Linked DNA regions of Homo sapiens. The protein of the gene in region 2 purifies or fractionates together with the protein of the main gene of each other region. This does not show direct contact. Each region holds a gene or a part of one and is shown on either strand. Other genes may lie near its edges.

Region 1 (4,534 bases), on a different chromosome or scaffold from region 2:
CCCAGGTTCAAGTGATTGTCCTGCCTCAGCCTGCTGAATAGCTGGGATTACAGGCATGCACCACCACGCCTGGCTAATTTTGTATTTTTAGTAGAGACTCCATGTTGGTCAGGCTGGTCTCGAACTCCTGACCTCAGGTGATCCACCCGCCTCGGCCTCCCAAAGTGCTGGGATTACAGGCGTGAGACACCGCGTCTGGCTGTGAACTTCATTTTTTAGTATTAAGCCTACCAGACTTTTTAAAAAGACTATTATAACATTTAATGTCTATTTACCTGTATGTAGAACATAAACTTGAGAGGTAAAGATAAGTTAATACATGGTTTGAGCCCTGGACTGAGTTTTTTTTTTTTCCCTAGAGTAAGGACCATTTGTCGGTCTACAAATGACTTGATGTTTGGCCTAAACATTTACTATTAACTTTTAGGGAGGGCTTGTTAGTATCCTTGTGATCTATTCACAGTTAAGAATTTCCATGACCACAACATGCTTCCTTAGATCCACCTTTGTGGATGAATCTTGAACTGAGTTCCACTTGTAAACTTCTTGTTTCTTGTGGTTCCAGTAGTCAAAGAAACATCCAGCAACTTTTTTGGTTGTATAGTCAAAGGTGCTTGAGTCATTGGCATGTAAGAGAAATATACCTGCATGTTAGTCTAACGTTCTGATAGAAATGACATGCATTTATGCTGCCATTTGTTACTATCAGGACTCGACTCGTGTGCGGACATTTCTGTTAATAATGACAGTCTCTGATAGATGAGTGTATGCAACTGTGTAAAACAAGTCTCTTGATTTCCTAGATTCTACAAGGGGGTTGCTCCTCTCTGGATGAGACAGATACCATACACCATGATGAAGTTCGCCTGCTTTGAACGTACTGTTGAAGCACTGTACAAGTTTGTGGTTCCTAAGCCCCGCAGTGAATGTTCAAAGCCAGAGCAGCTGGTTGTAACATTTGTAGCAGGTTACATAGGTACGAATTACTTAGAACACACTTGTCTGAAATTATGAACAAATAATCATTTCCATTATTGGCGTTTTTTGAGAGGGAAAAATACTCCAAAGGTTATAAAGCAGTGTTTTTGTTTTTTTGGTTTCCCTGAGGCATAGTCTCGCTCTGTTGCCCAGGCTGGAGTGCAGTGGCATGATAATAGCTCACTGCAACCTCCTCCTCCTGGGTTCAAGTGATTCTTCTGCCGCAGCCTCCCAAGTAGCTGGGACGGGCATGCACCGCCATGCCCGGCTGATTTTTGTTTTTGTTTTTTGTTTTTTTTTGAGATGGAGTTTTACCCTTGTTGCCCAGGCTGGAGTGCAGTGGTGCAATCTTGGCTCACTGCAGCCTCCGCCTCCTGGGTTCAAGCGATTCTCCTGTCTCAGCCTCCTGAGTAGCTGGGATTGCAGGCGTCTGCCACTACGCCCGGCTAATTTTTAGTATTTTTAGTAGAGACGGTTTCACTATGTTGGCCAGGCTGGTCTCAAACTCCTGGCCCCAGGTGATCTGCCTGCCTTGGCCTCCCAAAGTGCTGGGATTACAGGCGTGAGCCACCGCGCCTGGCCTGATTTTTGTAAAGATGGGGTTTCACCATGTTGATGAGTCTGGTCTCAAACTCCTGACCTCAGGTGATGTGCCTGGCCTATAAAGCAGTTTTATCTTCCCATAACATTTTATATGCTTTTTAGGATTCATAAATACTTGCTAACTAGTTCCTAAAAGGGCTGTTTCATGGGATGTCATTATTAGGCTTGGGAATGTATTGATCTTACTGTTGCACCATTTTTTTGTTGTTGTTTATTAAGAATTTTATACAGAAAGTGTTGAATAAAATCTGAAAAACTTTAAAAGATTGTTCCGTTTTACATAGGATAGACAGCTTGATAACTGTACCCGTGTCACCCTGAGTCTGATTTTTATTTTAGAACTAGAAAAATATTATTTTAAAATCATAAAAATGATTATTGGCTCTGTGAAGTTTTGTTTTTAACTGGCACTGTATGGGATCCTTTATCTTTTTTCAGCTGGAGTCTTTTGTGCAATTGTTTCTCACCCTGCTGATTCTGTGGTATCTGTGTTGAATAAAGAAAAAGGTAGCAGTGCTTCTCTGGTCCTCAAGAGACTTGGATTTAAAGGTAGGATGATGTTTTTTTCTTGAAAGAAAGAACAACAGTTTTGGATATGTTGCATTTTTTTCATTTGCTTTTCCTGTTTGAACCAGGTGTATGGAAGGGACTGTTTGCCCGTATCATCATGATTGGTACCCTGACTGCACTACAGTGGTTTATCTATGACTCCGTGAAGGTCTACTTCAGACTTCCTCGCCCTCCTCCACCCGAGATGCCAGAGTCTCTGAAGAAGAAGCTTGGGTTAACTCAGTAGTTAGATCAAAGCAAATGTGGACTGAATCTGCTTGTTGATCAGTGTTGAAGAAAGTGCAAAAGGAACTTTTATATATTTGACAGTGTAGGAAATTGTCTATTCCTGATATAATTACTGTAGTACTCTTGCTTAAGGCAAGAGTTTCAGATTTACTGTTGAAATAAACCCAACTCTTCATGATTTGCCTGTGACTTATTTTTAAAACTTTTTTAAAAAAGATTTAGCTTTAAAATAGTTGGAAAGAATGAAGTATATAAGTTAAGGAAAAAATACAAAACTGACCATGACCATTGTTGGTTGAATATTCCAGTTGCTATTCAGAAATTGTCATATGTCTCAAGTTTTATCACACAAAGTTCCTGTATTTCTAGGGAAGCAGACTTTAAATTTCTAAAAACTTGATTTAATTATAGTTAAATATGTGTAGTCATTTGTGGTTATTTTGGCAAGTAAATGTCAGTGTATACTTACATTTTTGCAGCATGTACTACACCTTTTTTATGTTGGTGAGTTTGCTAATCCTTATTTGTAAGACAAGGTAAACCAAATTAGGCTGATTCTTAGAATGACAGTAAAGGACCAAAGTGATTGACAGCTGAAAACAATTTTCAGGTACACTAATTCTCTTTACACAGATCTGACTTTTTTTTTTTTTGAGACGGAGTTTCACTCTTGTTGCCCAGACGAGTGTAGTGTCGCGATCTCGCCTCACGGCAACCTCTGCCTCCCAGGTTCAAGCGATTGTTCTGCCTCAGCCTCCCAAGTAGCTGGGATTTCAGGCATGTGCCACCACGCCCAGCTAATTTTGTATTTTTAGTAGAGACGGGGTTTCCCTGTGTTGGTCAGGCTGGTCTCGAACTTCCAACCTCAGGTGATCCGCCCGCCTCAGCCTCCCAAACTGCTGGGATTATAGGCATGAGCCACCGTGCCCGGCTCTGACTTTTTACAGAAAATTGAACTATTTTCAGTCTGGTATTTTAAGAAAGGTACTGCTTGACAGCTGAACTATATGAATGCCACTGGGGAAAAAGCATTCCATCATACTTAGATACGAGATTGGATTGTAGGTTTAAGCCCATTTTTAAAGAGCTCCTAGAAAGTGAATTAGTTTTTGTGTTTAGATTCCCCTTAAGTTTGATTAGGAAGTGTATAAAAGTTCAATCTTTTGTAATGACAGCCCACCACTGGAAAAAAAACGAAAAACCTAGTGTAATATATAACATGCTGTTTTTCAAACACTAGATTTTACCTAGAGTCCTTATGTGTAATACGTGGGTTGGTTAACAGTCCCTACGTAAAGCGTACAGATGGCCTGGAGAGAAAAACTTTTTCAGAGATTGGAGAGAAATGTTACTACAAACTCATGGTAAGGTCAGTGAACTCAATTTAGAAGCCAGTGCAGCTAGTTGCATGTTAACTTCTTTATATCATCATTGCCTGAACTTGTTAAAGGTTCCAACATTTTACCTGTGCTGCAGGAAAAAAGGAAAAGTTGTAGGTACAAATTTGGACCAAACTTTAAAAAGGTAAAGTAGGATGTCTTCTGAACCCAACCAAGTGGTGGCTGTGGTGCTTAGCAGTATCAACTGTATATTATTTCTTGCTATGTTAGCAAAGCATCCAAAGATCAATGGTGTATGATAAGCTTTTCTGTGGGTGAAGAACTCGGGAGTATCAGACTCTTCTGGTTCTGAGTCTCATGAAGCTTTTCACTTCTGAGCTGAAAGGATGCTCTTTGTGCTTTTCACTATTAGTGGTATAGTCTTTCCCGAAAATCTCTAGCATGGTGGCTTCAGGGCAGCTGGACTTAGGTGGTATTTTGGGGCTCCAGGAGAGCTTGGCAGAGTTGGCTTTTTAGGACTTATCCTTCAATGTCACATAACATCACTTTTACCATGCTCTTGGTTACAACAGTGATGTCTCAGAAACCAAGTCCCAGATTGAGGAAAAAAGGAACATAGTCTCTACCTCTTCCTGAGAGGAAAGTCAGTCAACGTGTAAGAGGAGCAGTAGAAACGCATTAGTCCAGCCAACGTGAAAGTGGACCGTAGATCTAAAACATTTTGGGTATGCAGTTCAGCCAGCCCTTACTGAGGCAGTTCTGCCAATCAGGATTCAAGTTTTATTTCCTAAGAGTTATAATAGGTTTTATTTGTG
Region 2 (5,569 bases):
GCCTGGCTAATTTTTGTATTTTTAGTACAGATGGGGTTTCACCATGTTGGCCAGGCTGGTCTCGAACTCTGACCTCAAGTCATCCACCCGCCTCAGCCTCCCAAAGTGCTGGGATTACAAGCGTGAGCCACTGTGCCCGGCCATGTTACGGGTTTTAAGCAGCAGGAAAACAGGTTCCAAGAGTAAGCTCTTCTAAAAATATCATTTGGTAAAGGGTTAGGAAAAGTGATGGTAGAAACTAGGCTTGAGTAATCTCCCTGAAGGATTATAGCAGTCTTCTATACTAGTGTTAAATGGAATACATATGCGAACATTACTGTAAGGGTCACATCTGTACTTTCTTTTGGAGAGAAAAAAATCGCCTTCCATCTTATTAAGCCATCGTTATTATAATTCTGTCTCTGTTATGTTCCAGGTCTTTGGTTGCTTTTTCTATGTGTACTACATCTTTGAAAGGCTTTGTGCCCCCTTGTTTCGGAATATCAAACAGGAGCCCTTCAGCGCTCGTGTTCTGGTCCTATGTGTATTTAACTCCATCTTGCCAGGTAACATGGGTACTTGTTAATTTGGTCATGCATAAATTCACGAGGTAAATAGAAAGCTATTGCCTATGAGCACCTTTGCTTTGCCTACTTTTTCATCTAAACTTCTATACATCTATGCCCATCTTGACCTCTTTTGCATCTACTTTATAAATGAAGTATCCTTCATCCAGTCTCAGGTCAGTCTTTCATCTTATGGCTTTCACTCAAGTTGTGCCTTTCTCTGACAGTGGACAGTCCACATTCATGCTGTGTCTTCCTGTTCGCTATTAAGTTCATTGTAATCTTGCTCCTGATTCCACCAAGCCACTTAAATGCCCCTTGTTGAAATTACTAGTAACTTGTAGAAATTACTTGTAGAAATTACTAGTAATCCATATTCTAATCCAGTGGATGGATTAAGATGTACTTTACCCCTTATCCAAGTTGACCTCCATGAAGCATTGGGTGCTGCTGACCACATTTTTAAATCTCTCTTGTCACTGTTTTCTTGCCTTTTTTTTTTTTGAAATCGGGTCTCTCTTTGTCACCCAGTCTGAATGCAGTGGTGTCATCATGGCTTACTAGCCTCGACCTCTGGGGCTCGAGTGATCCTCTCGCCTCAGTAGCTGGGACTACAGGTGCATGCCACCATGCCTGGCTAAGTTTTTATTTTTTGGAGAGACGGGGTCTCCCTATGTTGCCCAGGCCATTCTCAAACTCCTGGGCTCAAGTTATCCTCCTGTCTCAGCCTCTCAAAGTGCTGGGGTTACAGGCTTGAGCCACCATGCTTGGCCTTTTGCCACTATTTCTTATTTTCCTCCTGTCTTTCCGACCATACCTTGATTTCTTAAATATATTTATTGCATTTTTTTGTCTATTATAGAGATATATGAGTACCTAGTACTATGCCAGGTGCAGAGGACTCAGAAGTGAACAAGAGATGTATTATCTTTACAGTCTGGGAGCTTTTATAGTTTCCCTTACTTTTCCTCTTTTCTTTACTCATTGAATGTTGGTAATGTTTTCTGTCATCACCTTCCCTTTCTTTTCTTCTCTTGCATTCCTCTTCCAGTAACCCTCCCTCACCAGCCCCAGGACTTATTTGAATGAACTCTGTATCTGTCCCTAAAATAGAATATGTGTTACATACTTGAGTGTCTTCCTCACTAGCTGCAAAGTTATTGAGTTCAAGGATTGTGTTTTATAGCCAATCACAGTCTCTCTCATATTGTCTGGTACATAGTTGATGCTCTATAAATATATATTTTTCAATAAATGAGTGAAAGAGATGGACATATAAATGGATATTTTACAATATATTGTAATATGTACTACATAAGTAGGATAAACAAAATGCTTATGGCCTTTGTTTCACATTAGAGATAACATTTAATATTGGGTATTGAAAAATAGGTAGGTATTTGCCTGGCAGAGAATTGGTGGAAAGGTCATTCTAGGTAGTGGGATGGATGCAAGGGCATGGAGCATTCTGGAATGGCATAAACCCAGTTGTGGATAATGTTTACAACACTTAGAGGGTAGAATCACTGGAGATATGTTTAGAATGTTATCCATGTCACTATGTTAACCATGTCACTATTAACATTTTGGACTGGTTAATTCTTTGTTTGGAGTGGCATTCTTCTGCATTGTAGCATAAACTGTTCAGCAGCATCCTGGCCTCTAACAACTAGATACCAGTGGCACCACTCCCTCTCCTCCAATTGTCACAGCACTGGTGCAGTAGCTTGCACCGGTAGTCCCAGCTATTCTGGAGGCTGAGGTGGGAGGATCACTTGAGCCCCAGGAGTTGAAGTTCAGCCTGGGCAACATAGTGAAACCCTGTCTTTTAAAAACAAAAAGTCTCTAGAATTTCAAATGTCCTGTGGGGGAGAGGGGGCAAAATCTCTCCCAGTTTTAAACAATTGTTTAAGAGGGGGGTATGGGGGCCAGATTTTTAAAGGACCTTGGGTACTAAGTTAAGCCATATATTTAGGCATTTCTTAAAAACAGACTGGGTAGGCTGGGCGCGATGGCTCACGCCTGTAATCCTAGCACTTCGGGAGGCTGAGGTGGGCAGATCACAAGGTCAGGAGATTGAGACCTGCCTGGCCAACATGGTGAAACCCGGTCTCTACTAAAAATACAAAAAATTAGCCAGATGTGGTGGTACATGCCTGTAGTTCCAGCTACTTGGGAGGCTGAGGCAGGAGAATTGCTTGAACCCTGGAGGCAGAGGTTGCAGTGAGCCGAGATCGCGCCACTGCACTCCAGCCTGGGTGACAGAGCAGGACTCTGTCTCAAAAAAGAAAAAAAAAAACCAGACTGGGTAATGTCATTTGTTGAACCCACTTTGAAGGAAGTTACTGTTTTAAAATTAAGATAATTAACTCCAAAAGTATATCATCTCTGGAATGGGTAAACTGGAATAATAACTTATATTTTACAAAATAATCCCAGCTAAATAAAATGATGTGATATAATTAGTTGCTTGGTATGTGAGCTATTTGGAAAGACTGTTAATATTGTTAATCTTATTTTTAGGTGTGCTGATTCTCTTCCTTACTTTTTTTGCCTTTTTGCACTGCTGGCTCAATGCCTTTGCTGAGATGTTACGCTTTGGTGACAGGATGTTCTATAAGGTAGTATATACTTAGACTTAGCTTTCTTTTTACATTTTATTAACTTCTTCATTATTAGTATTTTGACATTGTTGGCTAATGTCACCAGCCTTTCACACAAACATTGTGAAATAATTTTCTTTTCTACAAGTTTTGCCAGTATTTTCTGAAATTCGGTTACAGATATAACTAGCATAACCTTGTGTTTTCTTCTGTCTCTAATATCTGCTCCCTTAACATAAGCACATGGTTTCTGCTGGATCCTGCAAGGATATATTGGTGATTCCAGTAGGAAACTGTTTGTTCAGAGCACACCATGAGACTTCCCTGAGTGTTCATTCATTTGAAATGGACCGTCTAGTTCTGTAGGAATGACCTCAGCAAATTATTCCATTTAAGACAATTGAGCAGTTCATGAGGGAAATAACTTTTCCCTCTTTAGTTTTGAAAGGTGTTAATTTTGCTTCAGATAGTATCCTTATGCTTCTAAAGTTGGAATTAAGCTATAGAATTAGAGTCAGAATGGCTCATAGCATTCTTTAACCCTACCTAAAGCTCTCTTTGAGTTGTTTTTGGCAACACTCCAAGTCTACCACCTTTTTTCTCAAAGAAACTTTAAGTGTGGATTGCAGATTTTAGATACCTGATTTCATTCATCTGATCTTAATATTGGGAGCAAGAAGCATATATAGGGATACCAGGACTTTGAGGTAGCCACCATCTCACCCTGGATAATTTTGCCATTTATGGTAACCACCAAACAGCTCTCTAGTGTTAGCACTCTCTCTGGTCTTCATGACCATAGAATTTTCTCATGACATTCTAGTAGGGTAAGGGGGGTGGGGCTTACTGATTGCTGTTTAGATGAACATTAGATTTAAATGATTCTATGTGTTCCGTATGAACCTAGGAACTAAATCATATATAGTATGAGAATTCATGTCATATTCAACACTAATAACCAAAATGCCTTTGAAGATTTTTCTGTCACCAGTGTATGAACCAACAGTTTATCACAGTATAATTTGATTTTTCTGTTACATATGTTCTTTGGGAAGTCAGGGGGGTTTGCTTTCGGGTGGGATGTGTGTGTGTGTGTGTGTGTGTGTGTGTGTGTGTGTGTGTGTGTGTGTGTGTGTAGTTTTATACCTTTACTTTTTCCCTCAGGATTGGTGGAACTCCACGTCATACTCCAACTATTATAGAACCTGGAATGTGGTGGTCCATGACTGGCTATATTACTATGCTTACAAGGACTTTCTCTGGGTAAGTAGCAAGGTTTAAGTTGATATTATTTATGAAATGGAGATTCTTTTTCAGAAAGTATGAGTATTATACAGCTGGAAGAAGTTATATTTAATTGCTCATGAGGAAAGGGTGATAGTATCTTTTCAGTTTTCTTTTGAGAAATTTACATCTAGAAACCTGCTTTGAATGGTACTGCTTAGAAACCACTGTGTGTACACTAGTAGGTCTAATACTGTGTCTTTTGCTCTGAATTTTATCTTACATAACAAAGTAAGAATGCATGGAGGTTGTTGGAGTTGAAATGATCCACCAATAATGGATAGTTTCTTATGAGTCTTGTTGCCAACAAATAATCTCCCTTTGGTCTTTTTCATTCGTTTTTCATGGTTAAAGGTAGAGAAACACTTTTTTTTTTTTTTTTTGAGAGAGTTTCGCTCTTGTTGCCCAGGCTGGAGTGCAGTGGCATGTTGTCGGCTCACTGCAACCTCCTCCTCCCGGGTTCAAGCGATTCTCCTGCCTCAGCCTCCCAAGTAGCTGGGATTACAGGCATGCACCACCACGCCCAGCTAATTTTCTATTTTTAGTAGAGATGGTGTTTCTCCATGTTGGTCAGGCTCATCTTGAACTCCCGACCTTAGGTGATCCGCCCGCCTCAGCCTCCCAAAGTGCTGGGATTACAAGCATGAGCCACCGTGCCCGGGTGAGAAACACTTTTCTGTGAGAAACACTTTTGTGTGGATTTTGTATCTCTCCAATCAGTGACACCTGGCTTTGAGACATTCTTTAGAGCAGAATATACTTAGACTGATGAGATGTAATCTTGAATCTCCTGGTTGATAAACAGGTATCTAGATTACAGTTTTTATTAAGTGAGGGCACCATTTGGCTTAGTGACAGCATCTTATGGTGGAAATAGCATTGTATTAATATTTGAGTGCTAATTCTGTCATTCAAGTGTAGTTTCACATACGGATAAGGCAAGTCCCTTTTCTCCTTCTGAAATCTTAGTTTTGTTATGTGTAAAAATGGAGAGGACAGTTGCCCCATCTACCATACAGTGTTACTCTAAAGACTGAAATTCAATATGTTTCATTTATATAGGAAAACTATGTTTTGTCAGTTGTAATAACTTACAAACATAAGTTATTGATATTTTTGAAAATAGACTCAGATATT

What was found. Proteins that work in one complex are often made in the same cells at the same time.
Region 1: the proteins of SOAT1 (region 2) and SLC25A3 purify together in Homo sapiens (affinity purification with mass spectrometry, with the first as the bait; one large-scale study listed by BioGRID). This does not show direct contact.

The regions. Positions count from the first base shown.
Region 1 is NC_000012.12:98,599,152-98,603,685, forward strand, and holds part of SLC25A3 (solute carrier family 25 member 3 isoform b precursor), read left to right. Parts: intron 1-483; exon of another isoform or gene 484-733; intron 734-803; coding exon 804-976; intron 977-2,019; coding exon 2,020-2,130; intron 2,131-2,216; coding exon 2,217-2,377; 3' UTR 2,378-4,534. UniProt on the Homo sapiens protein: Inorganic ion transporter that transports phosphate or copper ions across the mitochondrial inner membrane into the matrix compartment. Mediates proton-coupled symport of phosphate ions necessary for mitochondrial oxidative phosphorylation of ADP to ATP.
Region 2 is NC_000001.11:179,344,532-179,350,100, forward strand, and holds part of SOAT1 (sterol O-acyltransferase 1), read left to right. Parts: intron 1-415; coding exon 416-545; intron 546-3,068; coding exon 3,069-3,166; intron 3,167-4,312; coding exon 4,313-4,411; intron 4,412-5,569.